Homo sapiens: one gene and its partners. The gene in region 2 interacts genetically with the main gene of each other region. Each region holds a gene or a part of one and is shown on either strand. Other genes may lie near its edges. The genes, in order: RPRD1B, NF1, CDK10, FBXW11, ATG9A, EBNA1BP2 and TOP3A.

Region 1 (4,339 bases), on a different chromosome or scaffold from region 2:
AGGAGAATGCGAGCTCTCACCTCTGACAGCCTGTATCCATAGGGAATGTCATGGAACTGTCCCACGGTACTGCCGGAGTCTCTGGTGCCCTTTGTTTCAAAGCACCAACCTACTCTTTTGATTCATTCAGGTCTTTTAAAAATGAGTTATACATATTTAAAATTCGAATCTCACCACCACCCACACATAATTAATTATATCAGTTCTTTGTAAATACAGATCCTGCTTTTTCTTCTCATTTCTTAATTATGAGCCTTTGTTCATCACTTCTTCCCAAAAATACCCTTTCTTAATGTTTTTCCACCCCCAAAGCATGAGTTACAACCCATTAATTGGATATGAAATCAGTCTGGTAGCTAATGACCAACAGTTTTTGAAAAATGGAATAAAGCCATCCTGGCTAACACAGTGAAACCTCGTCTCTACTAAAAATACAAAAAAATTAGACGGGCGTGGTGGCGGGGGCCTGTACTCCCAGCTACTCGGGAGGCTGAGGCAGGAGAATGGCATGAACCTGGGAGGCGGAGCTTGCAGTGAGCCGAGATCATGCCACTGCACTCCAGCCTGGGTCACAGAGCAAGACACCATCTCAAAAAAAAAAAAAAGAGATAAAATAGAAGATAGAGCACACATAGTAAGAATGGGTATTTTATGAAACGCTGCTTTCATTTTTCTGTGTATTTACATAAGTGTATTTCTGCTGTGGGTCATGTTCAGAAACATTTAAAAACCTCTTTCTTATCAGACTTTACATTTTGTCAAATGTAGGAAGAAGTTCATCCCCACGTCCAAGGCTTACATAGTTTAAGAGATAGAGTGCTATAGATCATTTTAGAGATCTGGCTTCGAGCCCCAGCATCTCAGCTCACTGCATATAGAAACCTGTCATGTAGTTTTTTTTCTGGCGGGGAGGGGGTCTTAGTTCCCACACCCAATAAATAAGTGCATGCTATTTTTTATTCCAGTGGAAAGTAAAAAGACTACTTAATGAAATATAGTGGTCCCTCCATATCCATGGGGGTTTGGTTCCAAGACCTTCTGAGGATACCAAAATCCAAGGTTGCTCAAGGCCCTTAAATGGTGTCGGATTTGTCTATAACCAACAAACATCTTCCCATATACTTTAAATACTCTCTAGATTACTTATCATAGCTAATGCAATGTAAATGCTATGTAAATAGTTGTTATTCTGTATTTTTAAAATTGGGTTTTTAATTGTTATTTTTATTGGTTTGTGGGGTTTTTTGGTCTGAGTATTTTCCATTCATGGTTGGTTGAATCCACAGATACAGAACCCACAGATATAGGGGCCAACCGTAATATAAATGAAAGCACTTGCAATTCTCAGAGACAAGGAACGATTTTTTCACAGGTGATCTTCAATATCTCTTTATGCTTGTTTTGTCAGGAGAGCTTTTGCAGGAACAGGCATTTAGAAAGCCTTTGCCAGATTCCCCCCATGTACAGCTTCCTCACTTCAGGTAATTGAGTAGTGTCCTGTCTTGTTGACAGAGTGAATGCCTTTGGATTTCTTGCTTAATCAACTCATTGTTTGTCCACAGGTGCTGGCTTATTCTCAGACTCTGTATATTGGGAGAGAAACCGTTAACCTCCCCCAGAAATGTTTGTAGTCATACCTGTGTGATTTGTATATTTTCTCTATTTTTTGGTCTCATTTGTACTTAGACAAAGAGGCAGCTGAACGTCTTTCAAAAACAGTAGATGAAGCATGTCTGTTACTAGCAGAATATAACGGGCGCCTGGCAGCAGAACTGGAGGACCGTCGCCAGCTGGCTCGGATGTTGGTGGAGTATACCCAGAATCAGAAAGATGTTTTGTCGGAGAAGGAGAAAAAACTAGAGGTGAGTGCATTGAAGGCAGACCCAGACTGCCCACGTTTCCCTTCCTGTAGCCCACATTAGGAGGTTTTTATTATGCTTTAATTAACAACATTTTTATCGTTTAAAAATTCATGATGTGAATTCTGAACATCCATCAGATACTGTAATTATTTGAGCCCAGTTAAAAATTGAAGTCATGTTCTTATATGTCCAGGACAGAACAAACTGGATTGTAGGAAACAAACAGTGAACTCTTAATCACAGCCTTAGGATCTTAATATTGCTTTCGTTTGAACTCATGTTTTTAAAAAAATTACGAATTGAGGTACAAAAAGGATAGCAAATCAGTGAAAACCAAAGAATATGTTTGGTAGTATTTGGGAAGTGCTGAAAAATGTTTCTTTCAAGTCATTTGGAGGTTTATTTCTTTTTTTTTTTGAGACGCAGTCTCGCTCCGTCGCCCAGGCTGGAGTGCAGCGGTGCGATCTCGGCTCACTGCAAGCTCTGCCTCCCAGGTTCACGCCATTCTCCTGCCTCAGCCTCCCAAGTAGCTGGAACTACAGGCGTCCACCACCACGCCTGGCTAATTTTTTGTATTTTTAGTAGGGACGGGGTTTCACCATGTTAGCCAGGATAGTCTTGATCTCCTGACCTCATGATCTGCCCACCTCAGCCTCCCAAAGTGCTGGGATTACAGGTGTGAGCCACCGCGCCCAGCCGTTTGGAGGTTTATTTCTGACTTTATCCATGCTGCGGCCAAGAAGTTGTCTGCCTCCAAGATCTATCTGTAATTAGCTCTTAAATGTCACAGTAGTATTTATATAGCACAGTTCTCAAACTGTAAAAGACCTCATTTCTACCCTGGGTTGAGGACATTAGTCTGAGTGACCTTGGGGAGGGAGTTCAGAAACATTTCCTCACCATACACTTGTTTGGCTTCGTAATTAAGTACATGGTAGTTTACCCTCAGTACTTGCTCCCGTGGGATAACAGAGCCAGCAGTGTGGATTTTTGGGAACTTTGCTGCCCCGGGCTGCTGCACTTCCTTTTCAGGAATGTCTGCTCTTCTTTTTTTAAGAGATATGGAAAAGAGTTGCAGCCAGTGGTTTTGTGAAGGAGGACACTTCTGAGTTAGAGAGCCAGTCATGTTGTATTTCAAGAAATACTTCTTAAATCCCACTCAGAGTAGACAAGGGACAGGGAGAGCCATGTCACCTCCATGCTCAGGAAACGTGCTCTGGCACAGAAGGAGGGAACATTGAGCTATCTCTGAGGCTGAGATCATTGTATTTGCCTTTCAGCATGGTCATCTGACTTGAGGGGAAATGAGTGGCAGGCACTTTTTACCGTATCCTTACCTGCAGTGATTCTGGGAACTGTGTTGCGTAGTGGTAGCAGGAACTTCACATTCGTAGCCTGCTTGAATGTGGAAGATGGGAAAGGGCTGTAAAAATCCTACAGCTTAGATTTAGACATCGGCACTGACCAGAGATCCTAAAGGGAGTTTTACAGGCAGTACCAGACGGTCATTTATCTGAAATGCTCATCTTTCACTGAGGAAGCATTTTCAGCACTGTGCCCCGGGACTAATAAGAGAGTGTAATTAATGATTCTGGTTGTAAGTCACCATGCCATCTGTTGAACTGCCCCTTGGCGACACATTAAGGGCTTTCTCTGATCTGTCAGACATTGATTATCATGAGCAGCTGTTGTTGGGTAGAACGTGGCAAGCAACCATAGAGGACAGAGTCTTTGAGGAGATCGGGTTGGTAGAGCTGGTTAACTCTTTGTTCTGTTTTCCCTCCCCACAGTTGCACTCTGCTCTGTATATTGTTGGGGAATCATTCTGGTTTTTGTAGAACTAGTGGTTTGCTGGACGCCACGAGAGGGCATTAAGGTGGAGAAACAGATTAGAGCTTTGGATGCGTTCTGTAACTTTCCAGTCTGCGTTGCTCTGCGCGGTTCATTCAGTGGAATGGGGCTGGCATTCCATTGCTGAAGAAGCGGAACAGAAAGGCCCCACCACTGGAACCAACGTACAGAGTCTGAACTGAAGGTTCTTATCTCAAACCATGTCTCCGAGGCACATGAGCAGAACCATTTATTGTAAAAAATAGAGCCGATTTGCTGCATTAAAGAAAGCAAATGACTAGATACAGTATAAGGTTTTTTTCTGAGATGGAGTCTCGCTCTGTCACTCAGGTTGGAGTGCAGTGACGTGATCTCAGCTCACTGCAGCCTCCACCTCCCAGGCTCAACCAATCCCCCGTCTCAGCCTCCTGAGTAGCTGGGATTATAGATTATAGGCATGTACTACCACGCCCGGCTAATTTTTTTTGTTTTTAGCAGAGACAGAGTTTCACCATATTGGCCAGGCTGGTCTTGAACTCCTGACGTCAAGTGATCTGGCCGCTTCACAATATAAGATTTGAGAGATGGTTTTAGTTCTTTTCTTTATCCACGCTTGCTAAAAATTTAGGCAGTCTGCTCTCCTGAAC
Region 2 (3,500 bases):
AGCTCTAGACTAAGTTGCTTTCAAGTGATAATTGCCTTCATTTTAGGCTTGGGAAGATACACATGCAAAATGGGAACAAGCAACAAAGCTAATCCTTAACTATCCAAAAGCCAAAATGGAAGATGGCCAGGTAAGTCTGTAAAGTTGACTTTTGTCTGTTAACTGATCTGCTAAATATATGTACTTCACTTTGATAATCTTTCAAGAGTCGCTCAGTAAAGTAAACATATAGCTGTGTGAAGACTGATATTTAGTTGTGGTTTATCTAGACCTGTACTTTGTAATGTGGTAGCTACTAGCTATGTGTGACTATTTAACTTAAATTTTAACATAATTAAAATTAAATAAAATTTAGTTCCTCAATCATATAGTAACCACATCGCAAGTACCAGTAGCCACATATGACAATTACTTACTCTATTGGACAGCAGAGAGAGAAAATGTTCCTGTCATCACAGAAATACTGGGCAGCACTGCTAGAGACTGTTTGTTGCAGAGACCATTTCTTTACCTTTTCTTGCTCTTTCTCCCTTCATCAGGGTGTTTCACAGAATTTTCAGAAAAGGAGCAACAGAGGTAGAGATAAATTAACATGGAAACAATTCATTTTGCTATTTTGTTAGGTATTCTAATTAAGGAATGTCTTAGGCAGTAGATTGATCCCATAGAGTAAATGAAATTTTAAAATGTGGACAGTTCATTCAACTATTACTATTGACTATATTATCTGTTACTTTGGAAATTAATGATCAGTTAGTGTTTGTGTGTATTTGATTTGTAATGTTCATATTGCTCTCATTATTAGGTGATTTATAAAAACTGGTTGTTCCTCCATGGTGTTTTTGTCATGCTTAATTACAATAGGAAAAAGTTATATTTTTACGAAGCAAATGTGTGTACCTAATACCTTTATTTGGAGGGGACATGTAGCTTTAGAATGAAAGCTTTTGGGGGGATAACTGTTTTATATAATTACATACCATACAGTTCACCCATTTAAAGTGTCCAATTCAGTGACTGTTTTTAATGTATTCACAGAGTTGTGCAACCATCACCACAATCAAGTTTTAGAACAATTTCATCAATTGAGAAAAAAACCCCGTACCCTTTAGCTATCTCTGCCTCTAACCACCCCCCACCCACTTTCTTGCCTCTCTTCCCCCAACGTCTCTAGCCCTAGGCAACCATGAATCTACTTTCTGTCTTTGTAGATTTGCCTATTCCGGATATATTCTGTAAATGGAATTATAGAATATGTGGGCTTTTGTGATTAGCTTCTTTCACTTAGCATGATGTTTCCAAGGTTCATCCATGTGAAATCAAAACTTTTTAAAAGAAATTTGACACTCGGCTGATTATATTAGTGTATGATAAAAATAGATCAGTGGCTCTTTAAAAATGTATATGGTAATTTTATGGGTTGATTTTAATGTATATTTTACATTTTTTGTACTTTTGTCATGGAAGAAATGTTGGATAAAGCATAATTTGTCAAGTCTCAACTAATTAAGGTTTAATTCATGCTTTGCACAAAAATTTTGTGTTTAGGCTGCTGAAAGCCTTCACAAGACCATTGTTAAGAGGCGAATGTCCCATGTGAGTGGAGGAGGATCCATAGATTTGTCTGACACAGACTCCCTACAGGAATGGATCAACATGACTGGCTTCCTTTGTGCCCTTGGGGGAGTGTGCCTCCAGCAGAGAAGCAATTCTGGCCTGGCAACCTATAGCCCACCCATGGGTCCAGTCAGTGAACGTAAGGGTTCTATGATTTCAGTGATGTCTTCAGAGGGAAACGCAGATACACCTGTCAGCAAATTTATGGATCGGCTGTTGTCCTTAATGGTGTGTAACCATGAGAAAGTGGGACTTCAAATACGGACCAATGTTAAGGATCTGGTGGGTCTAGAATTGAGTCCTGCTCTGTATCCAATGCTATTTAACAAATTGAAGAATACCATCAGCAAGTTTTTTGACTCCCAAGGACAGGTAAAGTGTTCTCTTATTTTTCACCTTTCTCTATGAATAGAGTGACTTGTTTGAAATAAGCCTTTTTCTTTCAGATTATTTAAATTAGGTACTCACAGTTTTTAAAAATTTCCAAAAAATTGCAGAAAGAAGAGTCATCTCAATGTAGGGGTCAGCTTGCCTCTTAGGAACTCTGGTGTGTATGTGTGCCTAAGGGTATACGTGCCCTGTGTATGGGTACGAGTGTCTGCGTATATCTGTATGCTTATTTGGCTCTATGCCTGTGGGTGCACTTACTCTGTGTGTTTAGATCAGTCAGTTTCATCTCTCTAGGGGGTCTGTCTTCTGGGCATTGATGGCAAATCATTAATGTATTTGTTCTTTCTTTAGGTTTTATTGACTGATACCAATACTCAATTTGTAGAACAAACCATAGCTATAATGAAGAACTTGCTAGATAATCATACTGAAGGCAGCTCTGAACATCTAGGGCAAGCTAGCATTGAAACAATGATGTTAAATCTGGTCAGGTAAGCATTCTACTGAAATGTAGCAGAAACATTTTAAGAGATAAGAAAAACCTCTTACACACTGATACTGGTAGTAATTGATAAAATAACTGGCCATTCTTTACTGCACACAAACTAGGGTGTGACAGTAAGGTAGCCAGAAGTTGTGTACGTTCTTTTCTAAATAAATATCTTATTGTTTTCAAACTTACATTTAATTCGTTTTACTTGATGACTAAAGTATTTAGAATGCCTTCTCTTTTGTCTATATCTGATAATTTTTTTATTGTTTCTATGTCTATATAGGTATGTTCGTGTGCTTGGGAATATGGTCCATGCAATTCAAATAAAAACGAAACTGTGTCAATTAGTTGAAGTAATGATGGCAAGGAGAGATGACCTCTCATTTTGCCAAGAGATGAAATTTAGGTGAGTTCTCAAAAGAGCAATGTAGGGTCTTGTAAATCTTAATATGTCCAATGAAGTACAGAAAAAGAGTAGATATGCGGTTATTGGTAGAAAGGAGGACATGAAAAGAGAGCAATTTACATGTTTGTTTTTCTCTACATCTCTTCTCAAATTTCCCTAAGCTTTGTGCCTGTGACAATGCTCCCTTTTTCTAAAACTGTGCTATACTTGAGCTAAGAATTTGATTCTATTTCCAATCTGATACCATAACTAAGGGCCATGATGGAGGATAAATATCCATGTTGCTTGTTCCCTTCTGGCTTTTATGTCTGTGATAGCAGTATCTCTTTTATAAAGTCGTCATGTCACTTAGGTTATCTGGCAAATTATTTGCACTATAAGAAATCTTACGTGACTAAAGGTGTGTGTGTGGCTTCAAAAACATTGTTTGCTGTTTCTCTTTTCTCCACCATTCTATAGGAATAAGATGGTAGAATACCTGACAGACTGGGTTATGGGAACATCAAACCAAGCAGCAGATGATGATGTAAAATGTCTTACAAGGTAAAAAAAGAATGACCTTCAAGTATTAGTGGGTTTTACTGTGAGAGTTAT
Region 3 (4,339 bases), on a different chromosome or scaffold from region 2:
AGTTAATGAAAAAAAAAATAATAAAGATACTACGCCGGGCACAGTGGCTCACGCCTGTGATCCCAGCACTTTGGGAGGCCGAGGCAGGCGGATCACGAGGTCAGGAGATCGAGACCATCCTTGTTAACACAGTGAAACCCCATCTCTACTAAAAATACAAAAAAATTAGCCGGGCGTGGTGGCGGGCGCCTGTAGTCCCAGCTACTTGGGAGGCCGAGGCAGGAGAATGGCGTGAACCCGGGAGGCGGAGCTTGCAGTGAGCCGGGATTGCTCCACTGCACTCCAGCCTGGGCGACAGAGTGAGACTCTGTCTCAAAAAAAAAAAAAAAAGATACTAAAAAGCCCAAAGCTGAGGAAACGTGCAGGAAGTCTACGGGCATTGGTGCCGTGGGGGAGCTCTCAGCCCCTGTGGCCCTCTGGGAGCCACCTGCCACTGTTTTTCCATCACAGGGACCTGAAGGTTTCCAACTTGCTCATGACCGACAAGGGTTGTGTGAAGACAGGTGGGTGCAACTTGGGCCAGGCCCTGTCCCTAGATGGCACTTGGTGACACACACTCCCCTCTCTGCTGCAGCGGATTTCGGCCTGGCCCGGGCCTATGGTGTCCCAGTAAAGCCAATGACCCCCAAGGTGGTCACTCTCTGGTAAGTCCTTCTGAAGCATGGTGGCCCCTGGGGACCAGGCCTGTCTGGTGGAGGTCTCCTTGGGGATGTCAGGCCGAAGCTGCAACTGGCCTTGGGAATGTTAAGCTACAGGGTCTGTGCACACTCAGAAACGTTGGGTCTAGGACAGCCTCCAGGACACAGCAGGGCTGTGCCACAAAATGGTGAGAGACGGGCTCAGTGGCGTCAAGGGCCTGCCTAGATCAGACACACCTCGCCTTGAGAGCTGGAAACACCGTGGCCGTGAAACCATCTCTGGAGGGAAGGCTGCTTCACGGACTGAAGGACAGGCAGCTTGCATGCTTTCCCTGGTTCTTCCTCCTGGATACTTTTAACCAAACAGGGTCATGCTTAGCCAGGGCTGAATATCAGAGTTGGTCAGAATCAGGTCAGGACCCCAGTGTCGTGTACTCCCCATCTGAGAACGGGTTGGTAGTGGCTGGTGTGGCTGTGTGCCGAGGGTCCGTGGTCCCTGCGACTCTCAGGACACCGCTGCACGTGACAGCTCTCGCCCCCGGCAACCATTGCTGTGTGTGCCACCTGGATCTGCAGGGCCTGGGGCAGAGGGTGGTCCGAGTTGGGACAGGTTTCCAGGCCACCACAGGCTCTCGGGGAGGCTGTGTCCTGTGGAGGCCTGGGCTGGGGGAGAGGAGCCGGCTGTATTGAGGTGGGTGCTTCTGTGTGTAGGTACCGAGCCCCTGAACTGCTGTTGGGAACCACCACGCAGACCACCAGCATCGACATGTGGTGAGGAGATACGGTTACCGCTCCTGGGGCCTCAGGAAGGGCTGGGACAGGAGCCGGGTCACCTGGTTCCTGAGCTCAGCCTCAGGGGAGGGGCAGGAGTGCAGTGGGGTCTTTGCCAGCCTCCCACTCCCAGGGAGGTGGGCCTGAGCCTGGAAACCCAGGAGGAGGTGTGAGAACTTAGCTTGCTGTTCTCAGGCTGGGAGCACAGAGGTCTGGAGGAGGCACGCCTGCCCCTGCACTTGTCACCCCGGGAGGCCTGCGGGGCCCAGGAGGGGAGCCAGTGGTCCCTGCCTGTCCTTCACAGTGTCCCTGACCCAGCGTGCCTCACACTGGCAGGGTCAGCAAAGGTCTGGCTGCAGTCAGGTCCTCTGTTCCTCGCGCTGGCGGGGTCAGCAGACGTCTGGCCGCAGTGAGGTCCACTGTTCTCTGCAGGGCTGTGGGCTGCATACTGGCCGAGCTGCTGGCGCACAGGCCTCTTCTCCCCGGCACTTCCGAGATCCACCAGATCGACTTGATCGTGCAGCTGCTGGGCACGCCCAGTGAGAACATCTGGCCGGTGGGCGTCCTGGGCAGACCCGCAGCCCCCGCCCGTGCCCACGCCCTCTGCGCCCGCAGCCCCCGCCCGTGCCCACGCCCTCTGCGCCCGCAGCCCCCGCCCGTGCCCACGCCCTCTGCGCCTCAGCTCCTGCCTCCCATAGGGCTTTTCCAAGCTGCCACTGGTCGGCCAGTACAGCCTCCGGAAGCAGCCCTACAACAACCTGAAGCACAAGTTCCCATGGCTGTCGGAGGCCGGGCTGCGCCTGCTGCACTTCCTGTTCATGTACGACCCTAAGAAAAGGTGCTGATCTCTGCACGGGGGGCAGGGACCCTCACCACCCACACTGTCCAGACCGTTTCCCAGAGCCCAGCCTCACTGCGGTGGAGAGGCCCCTCCCCAGGCACAGCCGCTCGGAGTGGCCACCTGGCTTCCTTTGAGCATTTGAATCACAGGCTGCTCAGCTGGGTGGGAGGTGAGGAAGCCGCACTCACAAGTCGCACTAACGCAGGCTGCCTCCTCCAGGGCGACGGCCGGGGACTGCCTGGAGAGCTCCTATTTCAAGGAGAAGCCCCTACGTGAGTGTGCAGGGTTCCTGACTCGCTCTGTGGGGTATGGCTGGGAGCCCGTTTTGCCCGGGGTGGGTGGTGGAGAAGTGGCCTGCTGCCCTCACTGACGGCACACCCTTTCTGGGGTAAGAGGACAGGGGCATGTGGAGGCACAGACAGCCCAGGGCCAGGTCCAGAGGCAGAGCTGGACTCAGACCTGGGCCTGCTCCTCCTATCTGGGGCCCTGCCCCGCCCAGCACTGAACCCTTCTCCCTGCAGCCTGTGAGCCGGAGCTCATGCCGACCTTTCCCCACCACCGCAACAAGCGGGCCGCCCCAGCCACCTCCGAGGGCCAGAGCAAGCGCTGTAAACCCTGACGGTGGGCCTGGCACACGCCTGTATTCCCACACCAGGTCTTCCGATCAGTGGTGTCTGTGAAGGGTGCCGCGAGCCAGGCTGACCAGGCGCCCGGGATCCAGCTCATCCCCTTGGCTGGGAACATCCTCCACTGACTTCCTCCCACTGTCTGCCCTGAACCCACTGCTGCCCCCAGAAAAAGGCCGGGTGACACCGGGGGGCTCCCAGCCCGTGCACCCTGGAAGGGCAGGTCTGGCGGCTCCATCCGTGGCTGCAGGGGTCTCATGTGGTCCTCCTCGCTATGTTGGAAATGTGCAACCACTGCTTCTTGGGAGGAGTGGTGGGTGCAGTCCCCCCGCTGTCTTTGAGTTGTGGTGGACGCTGGCCTGGGATGAGAGGGCCCAGAAGACCTTCGTATCCCCTCTCAGTCGCCCGGGGCTGTCCCGTGCATGGGTTGGCTGTGGGGACCCCAGGTGGGCCTGGCAGGACTCCAGATGAGGACAAGAGGGACAAGGTATGGGGTGGGAGCCACAATTGAGGATACCCCGAGACTACCAGGAGAGCCCTGGGCTGGAGGCTGAGCTGCATCCCTGCTCCCCACATGGAGGACCCAACAGGAGGCCGTGGCTCTGATGCTGAGCGAAGCTATAGGCTCTTGTTGGATAAAAGCTTTTTTAACAGACATGGTTTCACCAGCGTTTAATGTGCTCTGATGTTGACCGTCCCTCTGAGTGTTCTGGGGAGGAGGGGGTGGGGCGGAGGGTCAGGAAAGCAGGCTCAGCTTCCAGGGTCAGGGAGTTGTGGGCCCAGAGGGGCTGTCACAGTGGATGCACCCTGCCCTCTCCCTCGCCAGACCCGAGGGTAGGGCAGAGGCACCTCCTCGCCAGCCTGTGGGCTGCACCCACAGGGAATGGAGGGGAGGGGCACCATTACCACTGGACCCACCAAGACCCCGCCGCCTGGGCGGGCTGTCCACAGGCCCTTCCGCCCAGCAGCAGTGACGCTCAGGGCCTTCCCAGCTGTCAGCCACTGCCCGTTCCTGCGCCTCTCGTGCACCTCCACATCTGGTTTGAGGTCAGGTCATTTCCTGTCTGTGGGCCCAGCTGCTGTGACACCCAAGGGGAGGGCCGGCGTCCCCGAAGCCAGGTCAGCCGTGCACCCGGCAGAGCCCCGCAGATTGGCTCCAGCAGAGCTTGGGGTGGGGGGAGCTCGGTGTCACCAACAGGCCCTTGAGGACACTCGTGTGGAGAATCCCTGGGACACGTGGAGGACCCCCAAGTCCTGAGCCCCGTACTCCGTACTGCAGGGAGCAGGCCAGGAGCCACGGGCCTTGGGGCACAGGGTCCTTCTCAGGGACAGGTTCAGGCACTGGCTGGAACAGGCTGGACCCCTCTACCCAGCACATGTGGGCATGCGTCTGGGTTCCGAGGGTGGGGAAATGTGGAAAGGCTCCTGCTGGCCGGCTTAGGCCTGCTGCCCTTGGAGCCTTC
Region 4 (4,339 bases), on a different chromosome or scaffold from region 2:
GGAGGATTATATGAGAGATGTGTGTGAAAGGACTTTGCAGAGGCTTGCTTTTCTTCAAATGCTGACCATACTAACTTTCCCCACAAGTACAGGGACCCTAAAGCGAAGTCAAGACCGATGGTGTGGAAAAGGTCTTTCTCCTGAGTTGCGCATGTATTTATTTGTGAGGCTTTACAGAAGACTAACATTTAGTTGCTTTTAGCCATACATTTAATGAGCCATCTTTGGGAAAAACAATGAAATCATGCAGAGTCAATACTGTCTTGGAAAATCTGGGAGGTACTATTTCAATGACTACCAATTTGGCGTAATTAGATCTATGCTGTAACTACAGAGAGAACCCACCCAGTCCTATTTTTATGCCTGGTATCCTGACAGAAAGAGACTGGTGATTAGTTTATATTGACATTGAGCATTGGGATTTATGTTTGATCGGTTTAGTTTAGACTGACCAAATTGTGGTTTTTGAATTCTTATTCTTACCATCATCAAAGCTGATGGTTTTAACCTTAACAGAATAAGCAGTGAGAATTCATACAAGATTTTCTTCTGAGTTGTATTGTTCATTGAATTAGATGACAATGGGGGAAGAAACGTGTTGGTTAAGAATGTGCTCGTTACCCTTGGTTAGTTTCTGCTGATCGCAATTGCTTAAGAGGAAGTTTGTCTTTGTAGGCAAATGAGAGACAGACCAGGAAGACCTGACAATCCAGTAGGGTATCTCTTACCTGGTTCTTAGTGTTTTAATGAAACTAAAAGATGGAAGAGTTCTGTGATGTCAGCGGGAAGCGTTTTTAGGAAATTCCCTCTCAGGTTGAGTTAACAATGAAGAGCTTCACAAAATGGAAAGCTGTGAAGTATAAACACTGGGACATTAATAGGAAAAATAAAAAAAAAAGCTTTGGCTCTTTGGCTTGTGATAGAGAGGTGTGTAAATATAAGCATATTGAATGTAGGAAACCATTGTATAGTAAAAAGCCTCTGATCCACAGAAGAAAAAGAAAGACTGAGGTTCTACTATTGTGAAAAAGGAACTTGAGTAATTTTTAATGTTTATTTTTTTAGGAGTTAACTGGAGAACATTGAACCAGTTTTGGTAACTAACAATAAAATATATTTTGGCCCTCTGAAATGACTACATGATAGATTCAAAGAGAAAGGGGGCAGAGGGGCAGGAAGAACTCAGTCCTGACACTACTCACCTGGCATCTGTTAATCTTTGTATTACTAGCATAAGGCCTGCCAGCAATTAGGGATTGAAGAAATATATATATACAATTAGGGATTGAAGAAATATATATGTGTGTGTATATATATATATATTTTTTTTTTTTGAAGGGAAGGGAGAAAAATTAACTCACTAGTACAGGGGAAAAGCCTGAGGATTCAAGAGGTCCAGAAATGAGTCTGTTAGTCAAATTGCTGTGGTTGTGTTTTGCTATAACTTGTTTTGCATTTTGGATAGTCGTACCTTGAAAAGCATAGTATACTGTTTTAGCAGTTCGCTACTAGCCATAGTTCCCTAGCTACTTCTGTCAAAATTGGGTTTCCAGTTTATTCTTAGGCTTAGGAGTAATACCACTTAATGGGAAAAACTTGAGAACTCATTATTTGCTTGGGATTTTACTTTTGTGATCTCCTTAAAGTTGTGAGTCTTAAGGTATTTTCATCTGATTGTTATGGCGAGGTTAATCATAGACCGGTATTTCAGTCACTTTAATTGCCTTACCTACAATATGAACAATCAGAACATCTTTAAGAGTCATTGCCTGTGGACTGTCAACAAATCTTAGAATTTAAAAATTACTTGGGTTCAGCTGGATTTGAGATTCTTTGTCACAGTTACAATCTTTGCTGCTAAACACAAAGACTACTTGAGTACCATTATAGTATGTCTTGCCACAGTCTTTTTTTTTTTTTTTTTTTTGAGACGGAGTCTTGCTCTGTTAACCAGGCTGGAGTACAGTGGCACGATCTCAGCTCACTGCAGCCTCTGTCTCCCGGGTTCAAGTGATTCTCCTTCCTCAGCCTCCCGAGTAGCTGGGATTGTAGGCATGTGCCACCAGGCCCGGTTAATTTTTGTACTTTTAGTAGAGATGGGGTTTCACCATGTTGGTCAGGCTGGCCTCACACTCCTGACCTCAAGTGATCTGCCCGCCTCGGCCTCCCAAAATGTTGGGACTACAGGTGTGAGCCATCGAGCCCAGCCTATAATGTGTTTTGTTTTAGCATTAATATTGTGGGCTTTAGGCTGGGCATGGGGGCTCACACCTGTAATCCCAGCCCTTTGGGAGGCCAAGGTAGGCAGATCGCTTGAGCTTAGGAGTTCGAGGCCAGCCTGGGCAACATGGTGAAACCCTGTCTCTACTTAAAAAAAAAAAAAAAAAGACAAGAAAAAAATATCATGGGCTGTAGAATTGCATGGCTCTTTGTTAATTAAATGCTTTTTTAAGTGGCAAGATCTAGGGAATTACCCTTTCAGGATGGCCCAACTGATTCATGTAGGCTGAAATATTTACTCTTCTGTATTTTCATTGTTCTCCATTTTGATGTTAATTAATTTAGGACCTTTGAGAGTAAAGCTTGATTTCTTCTCCTCTCTCAGAAATCATGGGCTTTCTGACCCTTGAACTGTGGAGTCCATAGTGCTCCATGAAAAGGGCATGGGCTCTACTACCTAGTAGATGTGGGACTTTGGATAGGTTACTTCTTTCTGCTCATCTTTTTTTGAGAATTAAATATGGGTAATTAATGTAAAGGGCTTGGCCAGTTAGTAGCTTTTCAATAAGGTAGGTATTACTATAATTACTGCAGGAGCATTTTGGCTATAATGTAGCAATTGTGGAAGTAGCAAATTTATGTTCGAGTAAGTTCAGTCTTTTTGTTTTTATCTTTGTTGTTCTGCTGAATGCTTTTTCTCTTTCCCTTTTAGTTTGTTTAGAATTTGCAGTCTAATTTGATATGGTAGAAAAAGAATATTGATATAATATGGACAGGACTTAATATTTAATGGTGTCACCTAGTAAATTGTATATTAGCGTTCTTTATGATTTTTCCCAGTTTACGTGATCATTGGCCATTGTACGGGACTGGCCTTTACTGAGTCAGAAGTTCAGTCTTCAGTTATATGTTTTGAAGCACACTATATTTTAGCTAAGGGTAGAGGATTTGGGTAATATGTAGATATGATGTCTTATATGTAGCAAACCAAAACATTTTGTTAGGTACGTAAATAAATATCTTTATGGTAGATATTTGAGCCCTCTCGTATCATTCTTTTTGGCTGACAAACTATTTTTCTAATGGTGGAGGAGCTGTCTTAGAAAATGGATAAGGAAGTTCAGTGTAGCTGAATGGTCTAGGACAATTTATATGGATGATAGGGTAGGTATTTTTTAGCTGCTCTCATTTGGAAGTTGCATGCTGTTTATCATGAGTAAATATTAACATTAGGGATGTTCCATTATTTGTTACGAGTTTTGTATCCTTTCAACACAGAGGTGAGGAATGCTGCTGCAGGCATTTTATGCCAAATAGCTGACTCAGGGGTTATAACTTTTTTCCTGTGCCTCAGATCCACCATTCCATTGACCCTTCCTTCCATTTCTTGGAGGCTGTCCTTTGCCGCTGGTGCCATGGTGGGTGTATGGATTGCTTTCTGTCTTTCAACAGTTACCGAAGTGCATGTTTGGGATTTTGTTGAAGAAAGCTGGATACAGTAAACGGAAAGAATCTTGGAAGATGCTTGACTGCTGTCTTTTCTCAGACTAGTCTGAAAGGGAAAACCCCCATTCATTCTGGATTGGTGGATCTGAAGTACAAAATATTTTCCAGGTAAGCAATTACCCTGTATTGTTTTGTTTTGTGGAACTCAACTCGCTGAAAGAAATTTTGAAAAATATTTTCCCTTATTTATTTTGTCCATTAATAGGGAAAGGGAGAAATATTAGACGTTTGTGCGTAGTGTCATGTTTGGCCATGTTTGAGTGTGGATCAGTGAAGGTCTATGTGTCTGAATTCCTGGTAAAAACTTTGTTTTACTGTAAGAAGTGCAGTTATTATTATCTTTGAGACATCAGGTCGCCCAGGCTGGACTGCAGTGGCACAAACATGGCTTACTGCAGCCTTGACCTCTTGGCCTCACACGATCTTCCTGCCTTAGCCTCTCAGGTAGCTGGGACCACAGGCACATGTCACTATGCTCAGCTAATTTCTTTTTTGTAGAGACAGGGTCTCACCATGTTGCCCAGACTGGTCTTGAACTCCTGGGCTCGAATGATTTGCCTGCCTTGGCCTCCCAGAGTGTTGGGATTACAGACATGAGCCACCACGCCTAACT
Region 5 (4,339 bases), on a different chromosome or scaffold from region 2:
CAGCTTGCTGGTACACTGAGGCCTCTGTCTGCCCAGCAGATAGCCACTGCACAAGGAAGAGCAGAGTAAGCAGGGCTGTTCTCTTCCAGGAGCCTTCCTGCACCTTTCCTGTTAGTGGGGAGGCCTTACCCTTGGAGAACGGAGACCACAGTATACTGTCAATCTTTCCCAGGGCACTGGTGCCCCCCCAGACCCAGGAGGGGCTGCACTGCATGCTGAGCCAGTTACTTGTGTTGTGCCTTTTTTTTTTTTTTTTTTGAGATGGAGTCTCGCTCTGTCGCCCAGGCTGGATTGCAGTGGCGTGATCTCGGCTCACTGCAAGCTCCGCCTCCCAGGTTCACGCCATTCTCCTGCCTCAGCCTCCCGAGTAGCTGGGACTACAGGCGCCCGCTACCACGCCTGGCTAATTTTTTTGTATTTTTAGTAGAGAAGGGGTTTCACCGTGTTAGCCAGGATGGTCTCGATCTCCTGACCTCGTGATCCACCCGCCTTGGCCTCCCAAAGTGCTGGGATTACAGACGTGAGCCACCGCGCCTGGCCGTGTTGTGCCTTTCTTAAGGGAGCTTGGCCAAGGGTGCGAATTAGGGCTGAAATCCAGCCCAGGCTCCCAAGCAGTGTGCCCCTGGTATAGGACTGCCTTTGTGTGACTCAGGAGAGGTGTCTTTTTGCGGTTTTCCCAAAGACACTGTATGTTCCAGCATCATCCCAGGCCACCTGGCTCCCTCCTCTCCCAGTACCTGGGGATGACCATGCTGGCGAACATCCATCTGAGCAAAGGAGCAGGTATCTCCCACACCAACGACCTCCACGGTGAAGTTTCGGAAGAAGTCTATAATCTCCAGGGCCCGTGGGCGCAGGCAGAAGATGAGGATGAGGGGTGTGACAATGGGGCTCAGCAACTCTTCCAAAATGAACACCTAAAAGGGCGGGACCAAGGTCACAAGCGAGCAGGAGGGAGCCCAGCCCTCACCACCGAGCTACCAGCCAGTCTCTAGCAGGCCCTAACTCCAACTCCACTCACTGCCTTGTACTGGAAGAGCTGGGCAAACTCGTCCCGGGTCTGCGAGCGGTGGGCATTACCCTGCCAGTGGTCAGGCATGTAGTGGATGTGAGCGAGGATCACGCGGAGCAGCTGCTCAGGGCAGAACACCATGTGCTGGTCCGGGATAAAGGACCTAGTGGGATCAGGATCATGGTGAGATGTATGCCTTTCCCAGGAATGCTAGCCGGCTTGCTCCCGCCTGTGGCCCTGGCCCACCTGCACACGGTCACGGTGACCCCCAGGAGTGTGACGGTGGTCAGCACATGTTCCACAGCCAACACATCTTCGTCATAAATGGTGAGGGCAATAAGCACAGCCAGGATGGAGCCAGCGAAGAAGGCTCCATTCTTGGCCAGCAGTGTCAAAAGAGGTGACAAGAAGCAATTCATGTACTTGGAGGCGGGCTTGTAGCCACGGTTGAGGCGGGACTGCAGCTCGTGCTCCAGCTCGTTGAAGTGGCGGAGGTAGCAGCGGCCATAGAGTGACCAGCAGCGTGCTCCCAGGGCCCCCGGCTCCCGCTTCAGCACCTCAGCATAGCTGAAGAAGGCATAGAGGATTTGCCATATGAGGATGAGGGGGCACAGCAGGAAGTTAGCGATGCCAATCCACAGGATGCGGTTGCTGAGGCGCTGGGCCAGCTCTAGCCGTTGCCCCCCACGTTTGTACTCGGCCTTGAGGCTCCATTCATTGAGAAACAGAGAGCCAGGTCCCCAGAAGAGGATCAGCTCAAAGTTGTACTTGAGACCACGGGTGAAGAAGACAGCTTCCCCGAGGCCAGGCAGGCGGAAGCGCAGAGGCAGGAGGGATTTGTTAACCAGTGCCACCATGTAGTTCTGGAAACGGAGGATGCGGTGGTAGATGTCCAGTTCTGTCAGCTCACGTTTGTGGATGCAGATCTGGTGCTCCTTCTGCGTCTGCACGATCCGGGCCTGCACTTCTTGCCACGTGCAATACGGAAGGGCAGACTGCGGGGTGGGGTGGGGAAGAGACAAGGTACGGAAGGTGGGGTTGTTGCCTCGACCCCTTTGCCCTATATTAGAAGTGAGATTCAGGGGTTGTGAGCTTAAGAGACAGTTCCTGATTTGTCAATGACAGATAAGGATAACTGATGCCCAGGAATACACCCACACCTCCCAATACGTCTTAGACTATGGGCTAACTGCCCAACTTCCCAGTCTTACCATAGGGATGCGCAGAGCGTGCAGGTAGAAGGAGTGGATCTCCCAGTAGCAGCAAATGTTATAGATGAACTTGATAAGCCGGTGGATCCAGAAGACACCAGCAATGACCAGGATGGTGATAAGGGAGCCATTTTCCTGAATCCTGGTGGGGAAAAAGAAGGGGAGGAGAGGTGGCCCTCGAGGAAGGAGTCTTGGCAGAGACGCTGCTATCCTGAAGTATTTTTGCTAGACCAAGCCTGAGTCAGTTCTGGAGTATGAGTTGCTGCCTCAGACTCCACTCTATTACCCACCTGCTAGCAGAACTCAAGGCTATGGTGTCCTCTTGACTTGCAGCCCTTACCTGGCACTACAGACTTGAGCAGGCAAAAAGGCGTCTGGCAGAGTGACCTTGACGGGTTCAGTAGGGTGAAGACTGTGGTTCACCATCTTGTTGGCAAATAGGATGTCATAGTCCACGCAGCTGACCAGGAAGGTAGTGAAGGCAACCACAAAGAGGAACTGCCTGGGGAGTTGGGAAGAAGGGGTGCAGTCTGAGAGCCAGAGAGGCTCCAGTGAAACCCAGTGGGAAGAGGAGAGTCTGGAGGTGGCAGAACAAGACTGGGAACTGGAAGGGCCTGGAGAACTCCCAGTGGGCCCTCTCTGCTCCTCAGCCCCACAGGACTGTCTCAGGCCCACTCTTTGCTCTTAGCCTCAGCTGCCACAGCTGCAGCCTACTTTCCTCACCTCATGGTAACCTCAGCCACCACTACTGGACTCTCGAAGGTTTCATCCTGTGGGTCTCTGATCTCCAGTCTCTGATTTCCTTTTGAGGTTGTAGTTAAAAGCCCTTGGGGGAGTTTTCTGATTGAGGGAGGGCTTCCTAACCCCTTCCCCTTCGGCAATGCTATATGGCTTCTCTCTCCCAGGAGGCTCTCTGCCTAGGAGCAGGCCATGGAACAGGCAAGGCAGAACAGAGGCTTTTCTCTGTGGCTGGCATCTCTGAGACCTCCTGACTGAACAATGTACGTTCCATTGGAGCGTTGAGATGATCAAGGTCAAGGCCTGCATTCTTTTTTTTTTTGAGAGAGTCTCACTCTGTCAGCCAGGCTGGAGTGCAGCGGCACAATCTCGGCTCACTGCAACCTCCACCTCCCAGGTTGAAGCGATTCTTGTGCCTCAGCCTCCCAAGTAGCTGGGATTACAGGCGTGTGCCACCACACCCAGCTAATTTTTGTATTTTTAGAGCCTCCTAAAGTGCTGGGATTACAGGTGTGAGCTGCCGTGCCCAACCAAGGCTTGGGTTCTTTTCATGGAAGAGATAAGGCTTGGAAAGCTTTTCTTGTAAGAAAGCTTGGCCGGGCGTGGTGGCTCATGCCTATAATCCCGGCACTTCGGGAGGTTGAGGCGGGCAGATAACCCGAGGTCAGGAGTTCGAGACCAGCCTGGCCAACTTGGTGAAATCCCATCTCTACTAAAAATACAAAAAAAATTAGCCGGGCATGGTGGCACATGCCTGTAGTCCCAGCTACTAAGGAGGCTGAGGCAGGAGAATCACTTGAACCTGGGAGGCAGAGGTTGCACCGAGCCAAGACCACTGCACTCCTGCCTGGGCGACAGAGTGAGACTCACTCCATCTCAAAAAAAAAGAAAGGTGAAGCTGTAAGTTTTGGTGCCACACCCAGTCCCTGAACTACAAAGGTTTACGGAGTTTTAGCCTAGGACTGAGTTGTACTGGCAGGTTGGGCCAAGTGTGAGTGCAAGGAGAGGAAAGACTAAGATGTATTCTTTCACCACATCATCTGTCCCTTCTTATACTTACATGAGCTCAAAGATCTCCCCGATGAGCATACATGTGAAGCCATTCTTCTGGTGCAGATTATAAACGTGTAATTGTTAAGAAAAAGTAGTCAGTAAAGAAAGCAGGTAAGAGCACAGACTTTGGTGTCAACACACTCAAGCTTAAGTCCTGGCTCTGTGACTTTCTAGCTGTGTGACTTTACCAAGTTACTTAACCTGTCTAAACTTTTGTCTGTCCATGGTGGTACATTAGGAATAAATAACACTTGTCTCATAGGAGTATTAGGTCTAAGATAATGCATGTAAAGCATTTAACACAGAGCTGACACAGAATGAGTCA
Region 6 (3,643 bases), on a different chromosome or scaffold from region 2:
TGGTATTAATCATGGTGTTGCTATTAAGACAATGTAGACACTGGAGTAATGGTATGGAATGGCTGTAACGGTCCTTGTGTTCATATCACAGGTGCAAACGGAGGTTCTTCAGAAGAGGCAGCAGGAGAAAGCCCATATGATGAATGCTATTAAGAAATATCAGAAAGGTTGGTACATCTCTAATAGGGGAACGAGGGTAGCAGGTACTTTAGAGTTGATTTGAACACTTAGTGCTTTGGAGCCTTCTTGGTTGATGTGGACCTGTCGGATCAAAGTTTTGGGAATGGTGTTGGAGAGCAGGATGTGACTCTTAAAATCAGTGTAGCAAATAACAGCCTCATATGGTGGTTTAAACTTTTATTCTTAAAATACAATGGTGCTGATCAAAACTACTTCTTCACTTACAGGCTTCTCTGATAAACTGGATTTCCTTGAGGGAGATCAGAAACCTCTGGCACAGCGCAAGAAGGCAGGAGCCAAAGGCCAGCAGATGAGGAAGGGGTGAGAAGGGTTTTGGCATGGTTTCTTTGGTTCTGTGAGGTGCGATGGGGCCACAGGTCACGAGTATGGCAGACATAGCACCTCCACCGGCGCAGCCATAGAGTCCAGAGAGTGCAGCTGCTGCCTGGGGCCAGGACCCCTATGACTGTGTGATGGGCCCTTTTAGCCATGTCAGTCTTTGAAGAGTAAAAGAAGGCACTTTTTAAACTTCTTTTTTTTTTGGACAGTCTCATTCTGTCACTCAGGCTACAGTGCACTGGTACAGTCTTGGCTCACTGCAACCTCTGCCACCTGGGCTCAAGTAATTCTGTGCCTCAGCCTCCTGAGTAGCTGGAACTACAGGTGCCTGCCATCACACCCAGCTAATTTTTGTATTTGTAGTAGAGACAGGGTTTCACCATGTTGGCCAGGCTGGTTGTGAACTCCTGGCCTCAAGTGATTCACTCACCTCAGCCTCCCAAAGTGCTGGGATTATAGGTGTGAACCACTGCACCCATCCTAAGAAGGTACTTTTAAGTATGTGGCACCCTTTAAGTGAATGCTGAGTAAAGTTGATTCCCCATCACACAGTGCGATGGTTGAGAGTTCAGACCTAGGGTTCAGATCCCGACTCTACCACTCAGTAGGAGGGCAGTTTTGAACGAGTTACCATGCCTTTCTAAATGCTAATTGCCTCATCTGCTAAGTTGAGGAAATAGTGTCTGCCTCATAGTATGAAGACTGAAAGAGAGAATGTGGGCTCTCATTGTTTTTTCTAGTCTGCTTTTTTGCATACCTGGATACCAGGCCTAGGGGAAATGATAATTTCCATGTAAGATAGTAAGTGCTATGATAGAGGCATTTGGGGATTAGTACTGAGTCAGCTTTTATAAATACCTGACAGGGTCTGGGGTGGATTTCTGGAGGAGCGTTCGACTTGAGCATTGCTTGAAGCATGAGTAGGAATTAACCACGAGAATAGAAGAGAAGCTGGGTTTGGGAAGAAGTAAGAGCTTGAACGAGCAAAGCCATCGAGATGTGAAACCTCAGGGTTTTGTGAGGAACAGTAAGCCCTTGGTGTCACTGGGAATACAGTGCAAAGCAAGGAGGGGTGCAATGTGTTTGGGGGGACCTGGGCTGTGGGTTTGCCTTGTTGAGGAGCTTGGGCTTTGTCAGAAGGCAGTGGAGAGACTAGGTTGTAGGTTGTACTAACAGTAATGAGCAGGTTATATTCATGTTTTTAAAAAGATCACAGTGGATTTTGTATAAGTGACAGACTTGAGGGAAGCTGGGAAATTGACAAGGGTACTATTGCAAAAGTCGAGATAAGGATTGAAGAAACATTTAAGAGGTGAAATGAGCAGGACTCAGTAATTGAATTGGGTATAAAGAGTGAGAGAAGAACCAAGGCTGACTCCCACATGTTTAGCCTGTGTGTCTGGGTTGGTGGGAGCAGCGCCAGCCTCAAGTGAGGGCATATGTACAGGAAGCAGAGCCAGTCCAGGAGATGATGTGAATTTGGAGATGCTGAATTCAAGATTCCTATTGGATGACCAGTTTTACATTTGAATGTTATTCCATTTGAATGTTATTTGAATGCCTATAATTACATTTGAATGTTTACATTTGAACGTATTCATTACATTACATTTGAATGTTACAAATGTAACATATTACATTTGGATGTTAACTGCATGTATTTACCCTTGAGAGGAATAGACACAACTGAGGGTGATTTAATAAGATTTGGTTAAAATAGAAAGCTTTCTAAAGACAGCAGGAAGCCATGTAATATATGTAGAGCCTTCCCTGCTTCTTGCTTTATTTTCCTGCCCTGGTGGTCAAAACTGTAAATAGGTGAGCTAGATGAGTTTGTCTAGAGAGGCTGTAGCATAGGATTGTGGGGCCAAGGATGAGATTCTGGGTTACAGACGTGCCTAAGGGGCTTTGCTTATAGAAAGGAAACTGAGAGCATTGCTGGGCCATCAGGTTCATCAGGCTTTACAGTGCTGTAGTGATGTCTAGGACCATTCTTTTCCAGGCCCAGTGCTAAACGACGGTATAAAAACCAGAAGTTTGGTTTTGGTGGAAAGAAGAAAGGCTCAAAGTGGAACACTCGGGAGAGCTATGATGATGTATCTAGCTTCCGGGCCAAGACAGCTCATGGCAGAGGCCTCAAGAGGCCTGGCAAGAAAGGGTCAAATGTAAGTGAGCCCAGGTGCCCGGGTGAGGAGCAGGCTCAGCCTCCCCTCCCACTCCCAACCCTGCCCTCTCCCTTCAGTTCTGTTCGTCCTCACCCTGGGGCAGAAGGCAAGCTGCTATGTGACCAGATGTGGTATGTCTTTTTCTGTAGAAGAGACCTGGAAAACGAACAAGAGAGAAGATGAAGAACAGAACACACTAAATAGCATCTTTGAATACAAAGAACCAAGAAAAAGGAATGAAGACTCGCAATTTCACGACACACTTTGATCCCTTCTGTTGGTGTCATGTTGTAAACATTTCTTTCAATAAACTAAAGAAAAATTATTAAAGGAACACATACCTTTGGTTAAATAGTCTAGACTAAAAGATTGAGAAGTTACTTTCCATTGCTATCTATTGATAATTTAGACATTGAGTTCAAATTGCCTTCATTTTATGATAAATAATGATTTAACTGACACCTTCTCATTTCCTTTGTCTCATCCTTCTAAATAGTTATATTACGATCAATCCCTGTAAAGCTCAATGCCCATATTTTACAGGTGTGAGCCACCGTGATTTTCTTTGTGGTACAGCTTTTGGTTTTTCCTCCAGTTAACCTTCACCTTACATTCTTCTGCTTGCCTAATTTTCCTTCTATATTCTTAGTTCTTTCCAGATGCTTTGTCATTTTACCCACTTTATAATTTTTCTCCTACAACCTAGTTATGCCACACAACTGTCACCTTTTTTCTAGACCGTTTAAGTTGGCACCATTATTTCCAGAATCCCATGTTTTCCCATCTTAGCATATGCCTTCTTTTGCTGTGTACCATTTTTTGGTATCTTACTAAGAAAGGGAAGATGAGAGGTAAACTTTTTATCTCCTTGCATTTCTGAAATTGCCTTTAATTTGGGCTGATAGGAATTTCCTCCTTAGAATTTTAGAATTTCGCAGGCACTGTTTTTAAGTTTTATT
Region 7 (3,873 bases), about 13 Mb from region 2:
AAATTTAAAAATTTAAAAAAATAAAAAGAATCCAACCCCGGCAGGGCGTGGAGGCTCACACCTGTAATCCAGCACTTAGGGAGGCCAAGGCTGGAGGATTGCTTGAGATCAGGAGTTCAAGACCAGCCTGGGCAACATAGTTAGACCTTGTCTCTATTTTTAAAAATATAACAAGCACAGTTGTACACGTCTTTAGTTCAGCTGCTCAGGAGGCTGAAGTGGGAGGATCCTTTGAACCCAAGAGTTTGAGGCTGCAGCAAGCCATGATCACACCACTGCACTCCAGCCTGGGTGACAGAGTAAGACCCTGTCTCAAACTTTTTTTAAAATGAAAGAATCCAACCTTTTTTTACTCTGACCTGCGAGAGTGCAGAGGGTCTGGGGAACATTTGCAGAAGCAACAGGTACCAGCCAGTGCTGGAAGGAGCTCACCCTGGGAGGTCTCGTCAGCCTCTGTCCTTCATGGCTGTCCCTTGTGTCCCATGTGGAGAGCCCTTCCTCCCTTTCCACATGGTAAGCACTGAGCCCAATTTCTTCTCACCCCACAGATGGTCCCTCAGAGCAGAGATGTCTAATGAAAGGTTCAGATTCAGATCACTAACTTTCCATCTTCCACTTTTTCCAGTGGTGGCCATGTTCCCCCGTTTGCCTTCACAAAAACCTTGTGAATAATACAAGCCATATGGACTCTGATTTACAGTTTAGAAGATGAGCAGAGGTGGGTGTGAGTTGCCCAGTCATGTTGCTAGTTGTTGAAGAAACTAGGATTGTTCTCAGGTCTTGGGCTCCTGGCCCATAGACCAGTGGCTCTGTGTTCTGATGGGGTATTGGGGAGGATTTTTACAAATGCAGGTTCCTGAGATTGTTCCTGGAACATCTCCGAGTGGGTGTGGGTTGTGGCCCTGCGTGTGTGATTTTGCCTATCCCAGCTCCGGGGTACCACCAACCACTTTTTGTCTCTGTGGGTTTACCTACTCTGGATATTTTGTTTAAATGGAATCATACCAGGCTGGGCACAGTGGCTCACGCCTGTAATCCTAGCACTTTGGGAGGCCAAGGTGGGCAGATCACCTGAGGTCAGGAGTTCGAGACCAGCCTGACCAATATGATGAAACCCCGTCTCTAAAAAAATACAAAAATTAGCCGGGCGTGGTGTCAGGCACCTGTAATCCCAGCTACTCAGGAAGCAGAGGTTGCAGTGAGCTGAGATCGGGCCATTGCACTCCAGCCTGGGCAAAAAGAGTGAAACTCTGTCTCAAGAAAAAAAAAAAAATGAAATCCTACCATACATGACATCCTGTGTCTGGTTTCTTTGACTTGGCTGATGTTTGTCAGGCTCATCCACATTGTAGCATGTCAGTCCTCGATGTTTATGATAAGCTGATAGCCCACTGTATGAATATACCACACGATTATCCATTTGTCAGTTGATGGACATTGGGTTGTTTCCACTTTTTGGCTATTGTGAATAGCACTGTTGTGAACATTGGTGTATGAGTGTCTGATGACTTGTTTTCAGTTATTTTGGGCATATGCCGAGGAATGGAATTGTAGTTTTATACCATAACTCCATGTTTTGACTTTTTGAGGAACCTACAAATTTTCCACAGTGGATGCACCACTTTACACCCACCAGCAGCACACCAGGGTTACTGCTTCTCCATATCCTTGTGAACACTTGTTCCTTTCCTTTTCTTGTATTATAGCCATCCTAGTGTTTTGTCATCCTAGTGGGTATGAAGTGGCGTGTCATTGTGGTTTTGTTTTGCATTTTCCTAGTCATTAATGACATTGACCATCTTTCCACAGGCTTACTGGCCATTGGTATACATTCTTTGGAGAATGTCGATTTAAGTTCTTCACCCATTTTTTATTTTTTATTTTTTATTTTTTTTTGAGATGGAGTTTCGCTCTTGTGCCCAGGCTGGAGTGCAGTGGTGCGATCTTGGCTCACTGCAACCTCTGCCTCCTGGGTTCAAGCAGTTCTCCTGCCTCAGCCTCCCAAGTAGCTGGAATTACAGGCATCTGCCTCCACACCCAGCTAATTTGTTTAGTATTTTTAGTAAAGACGGGGTTTCACCATGTTGGCCAGGCTGGTCTCAAACTCGTGACCTCAGGTGATCTACCAGCCTCGGCCTCCCAAAGTGCTAGGATTAACAGGCAGGAGCCATCACACCTGGTCTCTTCCCCCATTTTTAAATTGTGTTGTCTGTCTTTGTTGTTGAGTTGTAGGAGTTCTTAATAGTTTCTGGATATCAGATGCCTTTGTGGTTTTCACATCTCTGCAGGCAACTGTGTGTCTCAAAAGCAAACTGCAGGATTGGGCTGCACCATGGACTGGGCCAGGCATCTGAGATCAGACAGACCCAGGCTCAGCTCCCACTTCCTGGCCTCTTCTGCCACCCTGGGTGTGCAGCCTCATCCTTGGAGCCCCAGTTGCCTCATCCGTAATGGGGTGTCCTTGTTCATATTGAGGCTCTCTAGTGAAGGCTTACGGTCAGGCACGACTGCAAATTAAAGCTTCACAAATCAAACCTGTTGGAATTTCTAAGTCTCTCTCGATGGCCCACTCAGGTTAGCAGCATGCAGCTCATCCTACCCCGTCAACGTTGACTGGAAGGGTTTTTAGTCCCTGTGTTGAGCCACATCTGCAGCTTGTGCAATGCAAAACCAAGGAAAAGAAAATGGACCCCCCCCGCCCCCCCCTTGATGGATCTAGCTGAGACTAGGCACTGGCCAGGCTGTCACCTACAGTGGTTTCAACCTCCTGCTGCCAGCAAGACAGCATCTCCTGTCCTTTTTGTGCAGGAACCATAGCTCTGTTGGGTTAAGTGTTTTCCTCTACCAAGCAGCTAACCTGGCCTTGAAACCTAATCTCTGATGCCATGTCCCCCCAAGCCCCATCAGAGTTTTGTAAAAAGCCCCTCCCTGCTCTCCACACCAATGCTGAGAGCCCATGGGGTAACTGGAGGCTTCCCTGCCATCTTGGCAAAGAAGCCTGGCTGACGTCCTGCACATGCTTCCCCAGGTGATTGCTTGCACTTAACAGCAGAGGAAACGAGACCACCCCACACAACTTGTAGCAGTTGAGGAGTCTCTGCCTGATCCCACCCCGGATACTTAGAGCATCCAGAATTAAAAATAAGCCTTGTCACCAACATCCGGCTCCCCCACTCCCCAGAGCCAGGCTCAATGTGCCCAACAGCGCTGGGGCCCGCACCTGGAGGCACTGGCTTTTGAGACACTGGGCAGAGACCCCACTGCCCTTTGGGATGAATTCACCACCTGCCTCTTATAGAATCCGGCCGAAGACCTGGGATGTTCACATTCAGCTGGATCTCCAGGTTTCTTGGACTGGAACACAGGTGGCCCCAGCTCAATATGCTCACCAGGGTGTTGCCACTCACCTGTTGACCGTCCCTACCAGGGACAGATCTGTGCACCCCATCCCCACCTTAGACCACCAGCTCACACACAGGTGGTGTTGGTGCAGTGGTTAATGTTAGGTGTCAACTTCACTAGATTAAGGGATGCCGAGATGGCTGGTATTTTTTCTGGGTGTCTGTAAGGGTGTTGCCAGAGGAGAGTGACATGACTCGGTGGACTGAGAAAGGAAGACCTACCCTCAATGTGGGTGGGTACCATCCAATCAGCTGCCAGCACGGCCAGAACAACAGGTGGAAGAAGGGGGATGAGCACCTTGCTGAGTCTTCTCCAGCCCTCTCCCTCTTCCGTGCCAGATGCTTGCTTCCTCTTCTCTGCTGTTGGACATCAGACTCCAGGTTCTTCGGCATTTGGACTCTGGGACTTGCACCAGCAGCTTCCTGGAGCCTTCTGCCACAGACTGAAGGCTGCACTGTGGGCTTTCTGGTT

What was found.
Region 1: changes in NF1 (region 2) and RPRD1B together harm fitness more than expected from each alone (negative genetic interaction), as found in Homo sapiens cells (one large-scale study listed by BioGRID).
Region 3: changes in NF1 (region 2) and CDK10 together harm fitness more than expected from each alone (negative genetic interaction), as found in Homo sapiens cells (one large-scale study listed by BioGRID).
Region 4: changes in NF1 (region 2) and FBXW11 together harm fitness more than expected from each alone (negative genetic interaction), as found in Homo sapiens cells (one large-scale study listed by BioGRID).
Region 5: changes in NF1 (region 2) and ATG9A together harm fitness more than expected from each alone (negative genetic interaction), as found in Homo sapiens cells (one large-scale study listed by BioGRID).
Region 6: changes in NF1 (region 2) and EBNA1BP2 together harm fitness more than expected from each alone (negative genetic interaction), as found in Homo sapiens cells (one large-scale study listed by BioGRID).
Region 7: changes in NF1 (region 2) and TOP3A are lethal when combined (synthetic lethality), as found in Homo sapiens cells (one large-scale study listed by BioGRID).

The regions. Positions count from the first base shown.
Region 1 is NC_000020.11:38,064,395-38,068,733, forward strand, and holds part of RPRD1B (regulation of nuclear pre-mRNA domain-containing protein 1B), read left to right. Parts: intron 1-1,686; coding exon 1,687-1,862; intron 1,863-4,339. UniProt on the Homo sapiens protein: Interacts with phosphorylated C-terminal heptapeptide repeat domain (CTD) of the largest RNA polymerase II subunit POLR2A, and participates in dephosphorylation of the CTD by RPAP2. Transcriptional regulator which enhances expression of CCND1.
Region 2 is NC_000017.11:31,227,477-31,230,976, forward strand, and holds part of NF1 (neurofibromin), read left to right. Parts: intron 1-46; coding exon 47-130; intron 131-1,548; coding exon 1,549-1,989; intron 1,990-2,358; coding exon 2,359-2,498; intron 2,499-2,783; coding exon 2,784-2,906; intron 2,907-3,365; coding exon 3,366-3,449; intron 3,450-3,500. UniProt on the Homo sapiens protein: Stimulates the GTPase activity of Ras. NF1 shows greater affinity for Ras GAP, but lower specific activity. May be a regulator of Ras activity.
Region 3 is NC_000016.10:89,692,824-89,697,162, forward strand, and holds the end of CDK10 (cyclin-dependent kinase 10), read left to right. Parts: intron 1-450; coding exon 451-503; intron 504-574; coding exon 575-644; intron 645-1,349; coding exon 1,350-1,409; intron 1,410-1,604; coding exon of another isoform or gene 1,605-1,722; exon of another isoform or gene 1,723-1,739; intron 1,740-1,745; coding exon of another isoform or gene 1,746-1,841; coding exon 1,842-1,965; intron 1,966-2,107; coding exon 2,108-2,247; intron 2,248-2,469; coding exon 2,470-2,522; intron 2,523-2,771; coding exon 2,772-2,869; 3' UTR 2,870-2,905; coding exon of another isoform or gene 2,906-2,952; 3' UTR 2,953-3,531; downstream 3,532-4,339. UniProt on the Homo sapiens protein: Cyclin-dependent kinase that phosphorylates the transcription factor ETS2 (in vitro) and positively controls its proteasomal degradation (in cells).
Region 4 is NC_000005.10:171,996,385-172,000,723, reverse strand, and holds part of FBXW11 (F-box/WD repeat-containing protein 11), read left to right. Parts: intron 1-3,672; exon of another isoform or gene 3,673-3,834; intron 3,835-4,339.
Region 5 is NC_000002.12:219,222,848-219,227,186, forward strand, and holds part of ATG9A (autophagy-related protein 9A), read right to left. Parts: intron 4,087-4,339; coding exon 4,022-4,086; intron 2,726-4,021; coding exon 2,564-2,725; intron 2,366-2,563; coding exon 2,224-2,365; intron 2,008-2,223; coding exon 1,259-2,007; intron 1,176-1,258; coding exon 1,022-1,175; intron 918-1,021; coding exon 738-917; intron 47-737; coding exon 1-46. UniProt on the Homo sapiens protein: Phospholipid scramblase involved in autophagy by mediating autophagosomal membrane expansion. Cycles between the preautophagosomal structure/phagophore assembly site (PAS) and the cytoplasmic vesicle pool and supplies membrane for the growing autophagosome.
Region 6 is NC_000001.11:43,163,684-43,167,326, reverse strand, and holds the end of EBNA1BP2 (probable rRNA-processing protein EBP2), read left to right. Parts: intron 1-91; coding exon 92-167; intron 168-407; coding exon 408-501; intron 502-2,521; coding exon 2,522-2,684; intron 2,685-2,833; coding exon 2,834-2,884; 3' UTR 2,885-3,143; downstream 3,144-3,643. UniProt on the Homo sapiens protein: Required for the processing of the 27S pre-rRNA.
Region 7 is NC_000017.11:18,270,089-18,273,961, reverse strand, and holds the end of TOP3A (DNA topoisomerase 3-alpha), read left to right. Parts: 3' UTR 1-2,534; downstream 2,535-3,873. UniProt on the Homo sapiens protein: Releases the supercoiling and torsional tension of DNA introduced during the DNA replication and transcription by transiently cleaving and rejoining one strand of the DNA duplex.